Regions from separate parts of the Homo sapiens genome. Here region 1 is linked to region 2. Evidence: fine-mapped QTL for protein levels in blood plasma. Region 2 holds a variant in brackets. A gene starts in the other region. All regions are shown on their reverse strands.

Region 1 (8,338 bases), not on the chromosome of region 2:
TGATTCACTTGCTCTAATATCATTTTTTGTTTCTCTCCAGTTTGATGTGATGTAGCTCTCTGGATGCAAACCCTCCAGTCGGTTTGGGGAAACACAGTTGCTGTGTGATTTAGCTTTTATCCCCCATCCCAGCCCACAACCATCTCACTGATGAGTCTGTAACATGAAACTAAATCAAAAAGATCCCCAACAGAATTAGAAAAAATATTAAACTCACTGCTTGCTTGTTGATTTAATCAACCTAGCCGGCTGTCATGTGGGATTAGAATAAAATAAACACAAAAATGAAAACACACGATTGCTAACAAAGCAGATTCTTTTTTCAAGGCACACGTAAAGATAATAACTTCAAAGTTGATTATATTAACTTGTCTTCCCATGATAACACGATAAGTTCTTTGCTTGGTTTCCTTCTATTCAACCTTCTCCCGTGACCCTGGTTGGGGAGACCAGGGACCCTGATATGTAGTCCCACAGCACTCAACTCTGGTTCCGCATGGAATTCTACATCTCCTCTTACATCTAGTTACATCTCCTCTTCTAGACTATAAACTCATTGTGGAAAGGCCCCAGGTTTTTTCATGGGTGCCACCATCAGATGGCCCAGTTCAAACAACAGCTCTGTTTCTTACTTCCTGCGTAAGTTTCTTACCCTCTCTGTGCTTTCATCTTGATGTGATGATTAACAAGATGACACATCTAAATTAGTACAGGGCCTGGTAGTATTTATAAGTAAACATTATAATAATTATTATTTGCTATTACTATGTGATGATCAAAGAGAAAACTGAGTTGACAGAGAAGAAAGAAAATAGCTCTTATGATTCTTAATTATTCAAGTTCATGGTCAACGCTCAGGAAATGTTTTAAAACTGAGTCACGGAATCAAGCTCCAGAATATGTGGAATAATGAGAACGTGTGATGCCTTGGAGTGGTGTCACCTCTCTGCTTGCTCATGCCTGAGGTTTGGGACCAGTGGAGCCAACGGGATCTCAGGGGCTTGTGATATTTCCATGGTACCACTCAGTGAGATTAATATATTCTGCACATTTAGCCAGCCTCTTTGGAGTCCTCATTTTGGGATCACAAATTGGCTAGGAAATGATGATGCAGTGGTGGCAGGTCACATCCTCTAGTCCCCCAAAAGCTGTCCTCAGGGTCTGCCCTTCCAAGCTGCAGGTACAATCTAGTCTCTTTAACTGGGTATAGGTGTAATGGCATTCCTTCATGCGGCTAGTTCTCTCTTTTCAAGAGAAATCTAATGATTACTGTTCCAGATATCTAGCAGTTTTCTCTAAAAGTCATGTTTCTCACGATAATTAAAAGTGTAATATGTATTTTAAAATCCCCATGCAACCAGTGTAGAAATCTTACACTTTAAAATCTGGCATTTATTATGTACATGAATTTATAATAAATGCTTAAGCTTTAAGTGACTTGCCTCTTAGATGACAGCAGTGACATAAAACACACACATTCATTTTCATACTGAGAAGATACCTGTTGTGTTAATAAAAATTGTTCTGTTTTGAGGCAAGCATTCCTAAGATCACCGTAGTCTCCATAATATAAACTCATGGGGTCCTATAAAATTGTAAAGATTGTGGTCCAATAGGCTATGGAACGCAGACAATTTATTATAAGATTTGTGGACTCACTAAAATGTTTTAGGCATAAAAATAATTAAAATAAAATTGAAGAGAATTAGAAGAAAATGAAAATAATAATGCTCTTTGGAAGTAAGATGGCTTAAAGAAAATTCAAAGTGACATATCAAACAGACATTTATGGCAATGAACTTTATAAGTAGCTCATTCTAATAATAATATGGAACTATTTAAAACTTTGATTGATGAGTGAAAAAAGGCAAATCAATAGTGGATAACTGGTGAACATTCTTAGGATATAAAAATACAAAAAATGTAATAAATACTATAAAACCTAGTATTGTGTTTAAGATTTAAAGTAATGCCATAAAGTAATTCATATTACAAAGTTATATTTCTTGAGAAATAGCAATTTAAAGATTTCAAAATATAATATTGACCTGTTCAAGTTTGGGCTGTTTCTTATCTCAGTTTTCAAATAAGATGGAAATTTGCCTTTTTACATATAGGCCAGATATTGACTGCGCTTTTACAGGAACTTCTCAGAAACAAAAGACCTCAAAGATATTGATATTTCAGAATGTAATCTGTTATGGTTATGATTATTTTCTCCATTTTTAAAAAATTTGTGATCAGCAATTCTAATGTTGATATAATGTTGCCAGTATTCCAGTTGGGACCAATTCAAAGAATTATAGCAACTCCTCAATTGCTATTTTAAGAACAGACATAATGTAGCCCAATCATCTCACTTTACTGACGTTATCTGAAGTCCAGGGAGAAGTTATGCAAGTTAATCAATATCATCCTTATCTAGATGGGGGAGATATAAGAGCCAGAACCCAGGTCTCCCAAGTGCTGAGAAAAAACCCAAATATTAGTAATTATTAATAGTTTAAGGATTAATAGTTTAAGGACACACATTATTAATAGTTTAAGGATGAAGTTAAATTTCTTAGACCTTTCACAACACACGTTGAGCAGACAGGAAATACCACTAGAAGACTTTATAAAGTATTTCTCAGCAGATCCTTGCTAATTTCGCCAGCCAGCATCATCGTCCTGGCCCATGTGCCACCCATTATTCCAGTGAGGCCAGAGGGAAAATCGCTGCTCTAGGTTTATGAAAAAGGACAAAGTTTTCCTTTCTGAAATTTCTCTCTGGAGACCCAGATTTTAAAATGAATAGTAGCTAGTACCGGCACCTTTGTTTAAACCACGTTATGCCACCAGAAAAAAACATCTGGGGGCATAATAAACTCACGGGCCCTTTTCTTTTGTTACTTTCCTCTAGTACTCCGTCTCGTCAAGGATCACATTAAAAGTTCTTTTGAACCGCTATGCCCTGAGTGTCTAGGAAACACATTTCACGTTCCACAGGGGTATGAACTAAGAAATACCTTAGCAGGAAAGTAAGAGGTACACCGGGCTAGGTCTTTGGTGGAACACCTGCGCAGAGGTTCTTGGAGACATTAGGACACCCTAGTTAGTTTCCTCCATTCTGTAAAAGGCCCTCTGGATATTCATTTCAAGCCAAATTATGAAACTTGTGCCTGGTGTCCAAATCTATCTTTATGGTATTTTAAAATGAAAATGAGAATATTCGGGGGAAAAAGTTATTTTTAAAAAGAGGAAAGAGTTGTCCAAAAGTTTTAGAGGAAGGAAACACTCTAAGATGCATCAGACTGCGAGCCACACTCAAATTCTCACACGGCTGGCATTTAATCCACATCTAATCTTGGCCCCTCAAGAATCCCTCCAGGTTCCGGGAGACTGGGGCTCCCGGACCTGCTGACCTGCTGACCTGCTGACCTGCTGGACGTGCAAGGGTTCATAGCAGTTCCCCGTTTGACCTTGCAGCAATTTCCTGGGCAGGAAATCTGTCAAATCTGTTGCAATAGCTCGGGAAAAAGCAAACCCGAACCCCAAACCCTCACACCCCCACCCTCGCGAGCCGGGTCCAGAGTGGAGATCAGCGGAGGGGACCCTGGGGACCCGCTGCGCTCGAGGGCCACGCCTGGGGGCACGCGTTCACGAGGCCAGATCCTGGAGCTGCCCCCGGCGTCGGACCCGACGGGCTTGACAAACGGGTTCCTGACAGCCCCGAGGGGCCCGTGCTGGCGCTCCCAGGGCTCCCGGGACTGGGAGCGCCACTTACCTCGACTGCTCTGCGGGGCGCTGCGGGGCGCGGGAAGGCGGCGAGACTCCGGCCGGGAAAGCGACGCGCGGTGCAGACTGCCGCACCCGGGCTCCAGGTCGCTGCCCCGGGGAGGAAGTGCTGTCAGCCCTGCCCTTCCCACGCAGCGCGCAGACGTGTGGCGCTATCCGAGCTGCTTTGCTCCGAGGTGCAAGGAAGGCCCCTGGTTAGAGACAGTGGGACAGACAAACATATGCGTAAAGGACTCCGAGTTAGGGGCTGCTTTCTCCAACTCATCGAGTCTGCGCCTGATTTTCTCTCCCCCATCCCACCCCTACTACACAACCACCTTGAAGGGATTTTTATTTTATTTTATTTTATTTTATTTTAATTCTGGGAAACGTTGCGCCTCCCCCTACCTGTGCCGCGCGCGCCCTTCTCTCAGGAGCGTCTCCTGGCGAATGGAACCATTTTGCAGCCTCGACGCAAGAGGGACTAAGGGATTGGGGCCTAGTGATGGTTCCACCAAAGACTGAGAGGCCGCTTTATGTTGCAACGGTCTCCCAAAGTGTTTACTTCAGCACTTTCTGGGCTTCCTCTTTTGGGCCGGTTGTGCAAGGCTTCCCGGCCGCCTGCAGCCCGCCCTCAGGGGACGCGGTGCAGGGCTGGACTGGCAACACGCGCGTCCCGGCCGGAGTTCAGCTGTCTCTCGGGTGGGGGTGGAGGAAGGGCGCGCTGGGCGGAGGCCCTTTCTCAACCATCAGGTTGGTAACCTCACCCTCCTCCCTCCCCACGTTTAACCACGCTCAGTTGGCCGGCCAGGGTGTAGAGGAATAGCACTGTCTTCATTGCTCGTAGAAATCCAAAATGGTCTGAACCCCGTGGAAGAGAATTGAGCAATATCTATTTAACTTATGTATGGATTCGCCTTTTGACCCCGTCATCCCACTTCCAGGAGTGTGTTACGAAGATCTGCTGATGAAAATAAGTAATGCACACGGCAGAGGGCATTCATGGACTCACTATTTGCAACAGCATAGGACTGGCTGGAAATAGCACCTGTCAGTTGGGAGTGGAGTTTCCTGAGAGAAAGTCGCTGGGGAGGTCTGAAAATACAGAAGTTAAAATCAGTTATGATTTGTAAATGCGGTTGAATAACCCTCCCCTTCTCCTCTACAGCTGTGTCTTCAAAGGCTTATATGTCAGGGAAGGTGGTGAAGACATAAAGACAGAAATTAGGTGCATGTGTTAATTAGGCAATTTCAAATAGTTCTGTCATTTATTTAATGAGAAACTATTCGTAAGCACCAACACTTCTAAGAACAATGAAAATAGTTAGAGGAAACAATTTCTGCTCTCATGCATGGTGCATTCTAGTTGGTAGAAAGCAGACAATAAACAAATTAATATTTAACATGTCAAGGAATGTAACTAGTTTTGAAGGAAGTTAAAAGGTGAGGGATAGAGAGTGATGGGCATGGGGATGGGGTTGCTGTATTAATTAGGGTAAATAAACGATAAATAAATAGAAAATATATTTTCTCCTCATGATTTTCTTAATAACAGTTTCTTTTCTCTAGCTTTCTTTATTGTAAAAATACAGTATTTATCTAAATACATATAACATAATATGTGTTAATTGACTGTTTAATATTATCAGTAAGGCTTCTGGTCAACAGTAGGCTATTCGTGGTTAAGTTTTGGGGGAGTCAAAAGACATACATGGATTTTCAATTGTGCAGCAGTTTGGTACTCCTGAAATCTGGCATTGTTCTGTTACAGTAGGTAGCTAGTCAGGCATGAGCAGGGCAGGAGAGGGCTCCTCCCACCCCCTACCAGGAATGTCAGGTGACCATCAGGTGATGATCAAGCAGTTGTTATCAGCCTTACTGATAACATAGTCGATTAACTCATATTATTTTATATATATTAAATACTGTATTTTTATAATAAAGTAAGCCAGAGAAAAGAAACTGTTATTAATAAAATCATAAGGAAGAGAAAATGTATTTTTCATTTATTTATTTATTATTTATTTATCCTAATTTTTTTTAATATAGCACCAGGGAAAGGCAGTCTCCCAATAGACAGAAACACCTGAAACTGGTATTTCTGTCTGATAAGTGACACTTGAGCTAGATCTAAATGGCATGAGAGATTAATCCACACTGGGTTTTTAGATGGGAATATTCCAGGCAAAAGGAACAGCACATTCAAAGACCCTGAGTTAGGAGAGCACTTAAGATATTGGAAAAACACCAAGGAAATTAGTACGGCTGAGCAGAGTGAGATGGGAGGGACAGACATGAGATGGGATCAAAAGGAAATGGTGCCCAGATTGTGTGCTATTTGGGAGCTGTGGAAGAGAATTTGATGTGAGTGAGATGGAAAGCCAGTGGAAGGTTCTGAGCAGAGTTGTAAGTGCTACATAAAATATAAAATCAAACAATGAGAGTGACTTTCTTGGGGCAGGGAAAGTGGTCAAGGATCACCTCTTTACAAAGTAATGAGAAGGGGCAGCCATTCAGAAACTTGGGAAAGGATTCCAAGAGAAGGAAGAACAAGAAGAGGGGCTGAGATAGGAACATAGAAAGTTCAAAAGAAGGCAGGCCAGTGTGCCTGGAATGTTCTGAAAGAGTAGGGCAGCAATAGTGGATGGGGACAGAGAGGTAAGCAGGAACCAGAACAAGCAGGACCTTGTAGCCAGCATTGAGGACTTTAGGTTTTATTCTAATTGCAATGGGGGACTATTGGAATGTATTTAGCAACTGAGTGCATGATTTGACTTAAGCGATAAGCCATCCTGCCAGTTGGTGATTGTTCAGAAAATCAATTGATTGAAGCAAGAGAAGAGAGATTCCTCAGTAGACTATGGTCAGAGTCCAGATGAAAAATGATAGTAGCTTTATTAGTATTCTAACAGTAGATATGGTGAGAAGAGTTTGGAATCAAGATACAGTTTTCAAAATAAAACCAAAGCTTGGCACAGTTGCTCATGCCTGTAATATCAGTGCTTTAGGAGGCCAAGGTGGTAGGATCACTTGAGGCCATGAGTTCAAAACTAGCCTGGACAACATAGCAAGACCCTATCTCTACAAAAATGGGGGAAAAAATTAGCTGGGTATGGTGGCTTATGCCTATGGTTCCAGTTGCTTGGGAGACTGAGGCAGGAGGATTGCTTGAGCCCAGGAGTTCAAATCTGCAGTGAGCTATGATGATGCCACTGTACTCCAGCCTGGGCAACAGAGCAAGACTATTTAAACAAACAAACAAACAACCACCTAGCAAAGTAGAACCAATAGCATTTGCTGATGGGTGGGCTGGGAAATGGGATGGGAGTAAGGGAGTGGCAGAGGGATTAGAAACTGAATGGAAACCAGTATGATTGGAGTTATGGAAGGTCTGGTTAGAGGTAAGGTCAGTAGGGGCAAACCATGTAGGGTCATGTGGACTATGTCAAGAATTATTTTCTCATCCTAAGAGCAATGAGAATATATTAAATAATATTTTAAGCTGGCAAATGATGGGATTTATGCTTTAGGAAAATCACTCTGGCATAATTTGGGGAACGGATCAGATGAAGAAAAGAATAGATGCAGGAAGACTTCTGAGCTAAGTTGGGAAAGAAAATACAATTGGCCTTTGAACTGCCAGCAGCAGAATATATCTGAGACACGGCACCAAAATATGTTAGCTTTGGCAAAACCATATGGGTCTGTAGCGACCTAAATTCTTGCCTCCTCAGAAGAAAGAATTCAACTGAGGGGCATAAGGCAGAAGAAGAGACTAAGGCAAGCTTTAGAGCAGGAGCGAAAGTTTATTAGAAAACTGTAGGGCAGTAACAAAAGAAAGTAAATTATACTTGGAAGAGGGCCAAGCGGGTGACTTGAGAGAAGTGCGCTGTTTGACTTTTGACTTGGGGCTTTACGCATTGACATACTTCGGGGTCTTGTCTTCCTCCTCCTGATTCTTCCCATGGAGTGGGCTGTCCACATGAGCAGTGGCGTGCCAGCACTTGGGAGGTGAGCATGCGCAGTGTGTTTACTGAAGTTGTACGCGTGTTCACTTTAGGCATTCTTCCCTTACCAAATGTCCCTGGAAGGTCATTTGCCAGTTAAACTCCACCATTTTACCTCTTAGTGCACATGCTTGAGCCCACTCGCCCAACTCCTGAGATCTTATCTGGAAGCTGTTGATCACCAGTTTCAGGTGTTTCTATCTATTGGGAGACTGCCTTTCCCTGGTGCTGGCTGTGATCAATTATTATTTTAGAGACACGGTTAACAGTCCCCTGACCACCACCTGATAGTCGCCTGACATTCCTGGTAGGGGGTGAGGGGAGCCCTCTCCTGCCCTGCTCATGCCTGACTAGCTACCTACTGTAACAGAACAATGCCAGGTTTTAGGGGTACCAAAATGCTGCACAGTTGAAAATCCATGTATAACTTTTGACTCCCACAAAACTTGACTACTAATTGTCTACTGTTGCCCAGAAGACTTACTGATAACACAGTCGATTAACACATATTATGTTATATGTATTAAATACTGTATTTTTACAATAAAGTAAGCTAGAGAAACTGTTATTAACAA
Region 2 (8,338 bases):
CCATGTTTAGTGCTTCCTTCAGGAGATCTTTTACAGCAGGCCTGGTGGTGACAAAATCTCTCAGCATTTGAATCTGTAAAGGATTTTATTTCTCCTTCACTTATGAAGCTTAGTATGGCTGGATATGAAATTCTGGGTTGAAAATTCTTTCCTTTAAGAATGTTGAATATTGGCCCCCACTCTTTTCTGGCTTGTAGAGTTTCTGCCAAGAGATCCGCTGTTAGTCTGACGGGCTTCCCTTTGTGGGTAACCCGACCTTTCTCTCTGGCTGCCCTTAACATTTTTTCCTTCATTTCAACTTTGGTGAATCTGACAATTATGTGTCTTGGAGTTGCTCCTCTCGAGGAGTATCTTTGTGGCGTTCTCTGTATTTCCTGAATTTGAATGTTGGTCTGCCTTGCTAGGTTGGGGAAGTTCTCCTGAATAATATCCTGAAGAGTGTTTCCCAACTTGGTTCCATCCCTGTCACTTTCAGGTACACCAATCAGACATAGATTTGGTCTTTTCACATAGTCCCATATTTCTTGGAGGCTTTTTCATTTCTTTTTACTCTTTTTTCTCTAAACTTCTCTTCTCACTTCATTTCATCCATTTGATCTTCAATTACTGATACCTTTTCTTCCACTTGATTGAATCAGCTACTGAAGCTTGTGCATGCATCACATAGTTCTCGTGCCATGGTTTTCAGCTCCATCGGGTCATTTAAGGTCTTCTCTACACTGTTTATTCTAGTTAGCCATTTTGTCTAATCTTTTTTCAAGGTTTTTAGCTTCTTTGTGATGGGTTCGAACATCCTCCTTTAGCTTGGAGAAGTTTGTTATTACCGATCATCTGAAGCCTTCTTCTCTCAGCTCGTCAAAGTCAAAGTCCAGCTTTGTTCCATTGCTGGCGAGGAGCTGCGTTCCTTTGGAGGAGAAGAGGCGCTCTGATGTTTAGAATTTTCAGCTTTTCTGCTCTGGTTTCTCCCCATCTTTGTGGTTTTATCTACTTTTGGTCTTTGATGATGGTGATGTACAGATGGGTTTTGGTGTGGTTGTCCTTTCTGTTTGTTAGTTTTCCTTCTAACAGTCAGGACCCTCAGCTGAGGTCTGTTGGATTTTGCTTGAGGTCCACTCCAGACCCTGTTTGCCTGGGTATCACCAGCAGGGGCTGCAGAACAGCAAATATTGCAGAACGGCAAATGTTGTTGCCTGATCCTTCCTCTGGAAGCTTCGTCACAGAGGGGCACACGGCCGTATGAGGTGTCAGTTGGCCCCTACTGGGAAGTGCCTCCCAGTTAGGCTACTTGGAGATCAGGGACCCACTTGAGGAGGCAGACTGTCCATTCTTAGATCTCAAACTCCATGCTGGGAGGACTGCTACTCTCTTCAAAGCTGTCAGACAGGGACATTTAAGTCTGCAGAAGTTTCTGCTGCCTTTTGTTCAGCTATCCAGAATGCATTCTTATGTGTGCTTGTGTCCTTTACTGAATTCGAAGGTTCTGGGCAGACCTGAAGGGTTTCCCACATTCTTTACATTCATGGTTTCTCTTGATTGTGTGTCCTACCATGCATTCAAAGGTGTGAGGCAGATCTGAAGGCTTTCCCTCATTGCTTACACTCATAGGGTTTATCTTCAGGGTGAGTCCTACCATGCATTCGAAGGACTGAGGCAGCTCTGAAGGCTTTCCCACATTGCTTGCATTTATAGGGTTTCTCTCCAGTGTGAGTCCTTTCATGGTATCGAAAGGAACTGGAACTACTGAAGGCTTCACCACATTGCTTGCATTCATAGAGTTTCTCTCCAGTGTGAGTTTTTTCATGTCTTTGCAATGATTTGGGACAATAAAAGCCTTTCCCACATAGCTTACATTTATAAGGTCTTTCTCCAGAGTGTATTCTTACGTGTGTTTGTGTCCTTTCATGACTTTGAAGGTTCTTCATAGATCTGAAGGCTTTCCCACATTCCTGACATTCATAGGGCTTCTCTCCAGTGTGAGTCCTACCATGCAATTGAAGGTGTGAGGAAGATCTGAAGGCCTTCCCACATTGCTTACACTCATAGGGTTTCTCTCCAGTGTGAATCCTTTCATGATAACGAAGGGAACTGGAATGAATGAAGGCTTTACCACATTGCTTGCATTTATAGGGTTTCTCTCCACTGTGAGTTTTTTCATGTCTTTGAAATGAATTGGCAGAACAAAAGCCTTTCCCACATATCTTACATTCATAAGGTCTTTCTCCAGAGTGCATTCTTATGTGTGTTTGAAAACTTGTAAGAGAGGATAATGCTTTCCCACACTGCGTACATTCATAGGGTTTTTTCCTAGAGTGGGTCCTTTCATGTATACGAACATACTGGGGACACGTGAATGCTTTTCCACATTCCTTACATTGATAAGCCTTCTCTCCCGTGTGAATCCTTTCATGTCTACGATAGCATCTGGGACTATGAAATGCTTTCCCACATTGCTGACATTCATAAGGCTTTTCTCCAGTGTGAGTTCTTTCGTGTATTCGAAGGGTAGCAGAATAACTAAAGGATTTACCACATTGTTTACATTCATATGGTTTCTCTCCAGTGTGAATTCTTTCATGGATAAGATATAAACTGAGACAATGGAAGGCTTTCCCACAAAATTTACATTTATAAGGTCCATCCCCACTGTGCATTACCACGTGTCTTTGAATGCTTGAATGGGAAATAAAAGTTTTTCCACATTCTTTACAAGCATAGGGTTTCTCTCCAGTGTGATCCCTTTGTGGTGTTCTAAAGGAGGGGTGATATCTGAAGGCTTTTTTAGGTTGTTGACACTTACATGGCTTCGGTCCATATTCCTGATACTCATAGGCCTTGTGTCCAATGTCACCTCTGATGTTCATATTAAAAGATGAGTTACCTAGGCCAACTTCTCCACACACAAAGCTGTCACATGATTTTATTTCAGGAGAAGCTTTCTTCTCCTGGAAGTTCAGCCTGTCATCTGGAACCTGGGTAAAAGTTTCTCCACAATGACTGTCATCTTTAATTTCATTGACTTTCTTTTCTATGAGACTCCTGTCAAAAATGAGAAGCACATTACAAAGGGTTTGTTTATAAGTAATTTTATATTAATCAACAAGTACTGAACTTGCATTTTTAACACTGTCCATCAAAGTGTAGGCTTTCTGCCCTGTCTGAATTGTTTGAAGGTGACTGGACAACCCATTGTACAAGGTGACCCAGCCATAACTATTATTTAAAAAACTGTTTATATGGGGCTTCTTAATACTCTTCCCATGTAAACTATTTTACAAATACTAAATACTCTGTGTCATTTTTCTTTTATTTAGGGGTCTCGTCCTGTTGCCCACACTGGAGTGCAGTGATATCATCATAGCTTACTGCAGCCTTTACTGGCTCAAGTGATCCTCCTGCCTCAGCCTCCTGAGTAGCTGGGACTACAGACCACAATGCCCAGCTAATTTTTTGCTGTTGTTGATATGTGGTCTCGTTATGTTGCCCAGGCTGTTCTTGAACTGCTGGCCTCAAGCTATCCTCCTATCTCCACTTCTCAAAGGATTGGGATTACAGGAGTGAGCCCACAGCCTAGGTCACATTTATATATATGTTTTTTGATCAAATATTCTAAAAATAAATGTATTTGATCCTGGACTTAGTTCTTTTACTTATTTTTAATATATTGTCATATTCTAAGATTGTCTAGAGAGACACTGCTTTGTCTTGTAAGTACAAATTACCTGAAGTTTCTCCTGGGGTTTTGGTACTCATATTCAATGTTCTGGTCTTTCCAACTTTTTCCTAAAATATAGACACAGAAAAATAGTCCTGAGGCAGTATAAAATTGTGAAAAAATTATTAGATTCTATGCCCATGATTTACTGCAGCCATACCTCATTTATTCATCAAAGTATTTCCTGTCTATGTTCTAAATCACTCAACAGCATTGATGAGCTAGAAACACTGGTTCACTAATGGACTGAGGGAAGGAATATGTCATCCTTACCTACAGAGGTCAGGTTCCTGAAAGTTTCCAGCATCACTTCCTTGTAGAGTTTCCTCTGGGAAATATCCAGCAAAGCCCACTCCTCCTGGGTGAAGTTCACAGCAACATCATCAAAGGCCACTGGGTCCTGAAACATCTCACATGTGTAGAGGAGGATGG[G/C]TGAGAGTGACAGCACTGGGGGCCTAGACTCTATTCTCAAGAAGTTCTCAGGATGCCGTGGACTCCAAGGGTCATCAGATCTCTTTCTCCCTGTGTATACTTACTTTCTTCCATAAAGCAATTCTTTTTTTTGAGACAGATTTTCACTCTTATTGCCCAGGCTGGAGTGCAATGGCGTGATCTCGGCTCACTGCCGGGGTTCTACCACTTCTTCTTCCTCAGCCTGAGTAGCTAAGATTACAGGCATGTGCCACCATGCCTGGTTAATGTTGTATTTTTAGTGGAGACGGGGTTTCTCCATGTTGGTCAGGCTGCTGACCTCAGGTGATCCGCCTGCCTCAGCCTCCCAAAGTGCTGGGATTACAGGCGTGAGCCACCAGGCCTGGCCAGCAGTTGTTTTTTTTAAGACAGCGTCTCGTTCTGTTACCCAGGCTGGAGTGTAGTGGCACCATCGTGGCTCACTACAACCTCTTACTCCTGGGTTCATGCAATTCTCATGCCTCAGCCTCCTGAGTAGTTGAGACCACAGGCATGTGCCACCACACCTGGCTAGTTCATAAAGCAATTGTGATGCTAGAACTGAACAAGGGCTAAAGCCACAGCAGGATAGGAAATGTATTTACCGAACCCAGGGAGAAAAGTGAGTTGCCTGGGCTGTCCCTAATGTCTCTTTGGACTGTGGGTCTTTGGACTGTAGCATCTGTCATGACAGAGTCCTATGAATTAATATGCAGAAAAAGTTAACATTAGCAGTCCTGAGGCTGTGTATCCTTGAAAATGCCTGTTCCCAAAGTGTAATCTTTGATGATATTGTCAGAGGAAGCATGTAGGTAGCAAAGAGCAGGAGGGGGAGCCCCTGGGAAATCACACTCCCCCAGGGACCACCCAAATCAGGCATGCTAGATATAAGCAGAGAGGAGGGGAATAACCTAGGTAGAAAGAAACTTCCATTATGATGCCCAGGAATCATTCATTTTGCAGTTATCCTGTCAGAATGTAGCTAGATAGATGCTGACAGGGCAAAGGGGACATTCCTAAAAAATACCTGGCACTGTATGTACTCAAGAGGGCAAACAAGAAACTCTTAAGAGATACCCAGGTGTCATAAGCACAGATTTAACCACTATACCACCTTCCTGAGGTGGCAGTAATGAGCAATGCAGCCACCCACATATCCACTGATGGCTAAATGGAAAAACAAAATGTGGTAAGCATATATATAAAATGGGATATTATTTACTCTTAGAAAATGACATCTTAGCCGGGCATGGTGGCTGACGCCTGTAATCCCAGCACTTTGGAAGACTGAGGCGGGCAGATCACCTGAGGGACAGAGTTTGAGATCAGCCTGACCAGCATGGAGAAATGCCGTCTCTACTAAAAATACAAAATTACCCGGGCATGGCGGCACATGCCTGTAAACCTAGTTACTCAGGAGGCTGAGGCAGGAGAATTGCTTGAACCCGGGAGGCAGGAGGTTGCGGTGAGCCAAGATTGCACCATTGCACTTCAGCCTGGGCAACAAGAGTGAAACTCCGATTCAAAAAAAAAAAAAAAAAAAAGAAAATAACATCTTGGCCTATACTACAACATGCATGAAACCTCAGGATAATTGAAAAAAGCAAAATACAATAGAATTCATCTTAGAGAACTTATGTAGATCTGTCAAACTATCTCAACTGTACATGTAAAATTTCTTAAGCTGATAAGTTTCACATTTTGTTTTAAGATAAGTAATGATAACAAATCATGGTAGCAGCCAGGCATGGTGGCTCATGCCTGTAATCCCAGCACTTTGGGAGGTTAAGGTGGGCGGATCACTTGAGGTCGGCAGTTTGAGACCACTCTGGCCAACATGGTGGAAATCCATCTCTAAAAAAACACAAAAATTAGCCAGGCATGGTGGCACATGCCTATAGTCACAGTTACTTGAAAGGCTGACATGGGAGAATCATTTGAACCTGGGAGGCAGAGGTTGCAGTGAGCCGAGATCACGCCACTGCACTCCAGCCGGGGCAACAGAGTGAGACTCTTAAAACAAACAAAACACCATAAGAATGTCCTAATAGAGGCAGAAAAGGCATCTGACAAGCCTTAACCAATTTATGCCTAGTGTTCCCTTTTTGGAACGCTAAGCATGTGGGAATTGTTTATATCCTACTGCTTAAGGTCATGGCCAAAGTCTGATTTTTCACACGTCGGCAATTCAAAAAAGTGCAACCTCCAGCATAAATAAGTTAATATCTCCTGATGATTAAAAATGCTCAATAAATTAAATATAAAAGAGAAGATTCCATAAGATGACAAGAGAGGCACTAGGAACATAGAAACATCTACTATAAAGACATGTACTAAAAATGCAAACCCAGAGGCCAAGGCAGACAGATCATTTGAGCCCCTCAGTTCAAGACCAGCCTGGGCAACATAAGGAGACCCTGTCTCCATAATAAAGTAAAAAATTAGGCATGGTGGCACAAAACAAATGGTATTGAAACACCTGAATTAGCAAATGCAAAGAAATGAATTAGACACAGAACTGCACCTTTTACAAAACTACTTCCTAATGAATCATTTACTTAAATGGAAAATGCAAAACTCACAATTTCTAGAACGTAACACTGAGAAAACCAAGACGACCTTGGATTTGGCAATAAGGTTTCACACACAACACAAAAAGCATGATCTGTGAATGAGAAAATCGATAAATTGGACTTCATTCAAAACAAAAATGTTTTGGAAAAGACTTTGTTAAAAGAAGAAAAAGAGAGGCAGCAGACAGGGACAAAATATTTGCAAGACACCTATCTGATCAAGGATTTGTACCCAAAAGGTATAAAGAACTCCTAAAATTCTGTAAGAAAAAAACCAACCAATCAAAAAATAAGCAAAAGGCCGGTTACGGTGGCTCATGCCTTAATCCCAGCACTTTGGGAGGCAGAGACGGGTGGATCACCGAAGTCAGGAGTTTGAGACCAGCCTGACTAACATGGTGAAACCCCGTCTCTAGTAAAAATACAAAAATTAGCTGGGCCTGGTGGCGTGAGCCTGTAATCCCAGTTACTCAGGAGGCTGAGGCAGGAGAATCGCTGGAACCCAGGAGACAGAGGTTGCAGTGAGCCGAGATCACGCCACTGCCCTCCAGCCTGGGTGACAGAGCCAGACTCAGTCTCAAAAAAAAAAAAAGCCCAATCTTTCCAAGTATACCTCCCCCTAAAGAATGTAATTATGGCAAACAAACATATGACAGGATGCCCTACATTACATGTTATTAAAGAGCAAATGAAAACAGGCCGGGTGCAGTGGCTCATGCCTGTAATCCAGCCCTTTGGGAAGCTGAGGCGGGTGGATCACCTGAGGTCAAAAGTTTGAGACCAGCCTGGACAACATGGTGAAACCCTGTCTCTACTAATAATACGAACAGCAGCCATGCATGGCGGCGTACACCTGTAATCCCAGTTAATTGGGAGTCTGAGTCAGGAGAATCGCTTAAACCCGGGAGGCAGAGGCTGCAGTGAGCTCAATCACACCATGGTACTCCAGTCTGGGCAACAAGAACGAAACTCCGTCTCCAAAGGGAAAAAAAAAGGAAAACAAAAATAAAGCACCAGCAAATACCTGGTGGAGTAGCTAAAATCCAAAACACTGACACTTCCAAATGCTGGAGACAGTGAACTCTCCTTCACTAGGGATGTGAATGGAAAATTCTACAGCCAATTTGGAAGACAGTCTGTGGAGCTCTGAAGAAAATAAGCATGGTCTTACTGATTCAGTAGTCTCATTCCTACATATTGACTCAAATGAACTGAAAACTGATGTCCACACAAAAGTCCTCCCACAAATGTTTTTAGCAGCCTTACTCATAACTGCCAAAAACTAGAATCAAACAAGGTGAGTCTTTAAAAAAAAAAATAGATAAGTTCTCACACTGTATCTACCAGGCTGTTCTCTAACTTCTGGCCTTAAGCAATCTCACCTCAGTCTCCCGTGTGCTGGGAACTCAGGGATGAGGCATCACACCAGGCTCAAGATGAGTCTTTCAGTAGATGAATAAAGAAACAAACTATGGTAACATCTGTACAATGGAATGTTACTCAGTAATGAAAGAAAATGAGTGGCCGGACATGGTGGCTCACAAGTGGAATCCAGGCATTTGGGAAGCTCAGGCAGGAGGATCACCTGAGCTGGGGAGTTTGA

Direction of the effects. Alleles are on the strand shown, and positions count from the first base shown. The strength of an association depends on the size of the effect and on how common the allele is.
With allele C in place of G in region 2, the plasma level of the protein whose gene starts at base 4,279 in region 1 is higher (moderate association).

What was found. PIP is the chance, under the fine-mapping model, that this variant and not a neighbour inherited with it causes the effect. Protein levels are from antibody-based Olink assays in UK Biobank. Linkage for the fine-mapping came from a reference panel and not from the study's own genotypes, which makes the PIPs less certain.
Region 1: APBB1IP starts here. The variant in region 2 is fine-mapped to the plasma level of the APBB1IP protein (UK Biobank, PIP 0.99).

Annotation. Positions count from the first base shown.
Region 1 is chr10:26,434,282-26,442,619 of GRCh38, reverse strand. APBB1IP (amyloid beta precursor protein binding family B member 1 interacting protein) reads right to left here and starts at 4,279. Exons shown (of 15, transcript NM_019043.4): 1 at 4,165-4,279; 2 at 3,767-3,968. RefSeq lists enhancers at 3,946-4,025, 4,586-4,715, 4,433-4,962.
Region 2 is chr19:11,899,347-11,907,684 of GRCh38, reverse strand. It overlaps ZNF69 (zinc finger protein 69), which reads right to left. Exons shown (of 4, transcript NM_001364730.1): 2 at 3,986-4,112; 3 at 3,720-3,780; 4 at 989-3,036. The coding sequence ends at 1,587. Among named protein-coding and RNA genes, the nearest start is that of ZNF69, 16 kb to the right of the region's middle. The variant G/C (reference allele first, on the strand shown) is at 4,145.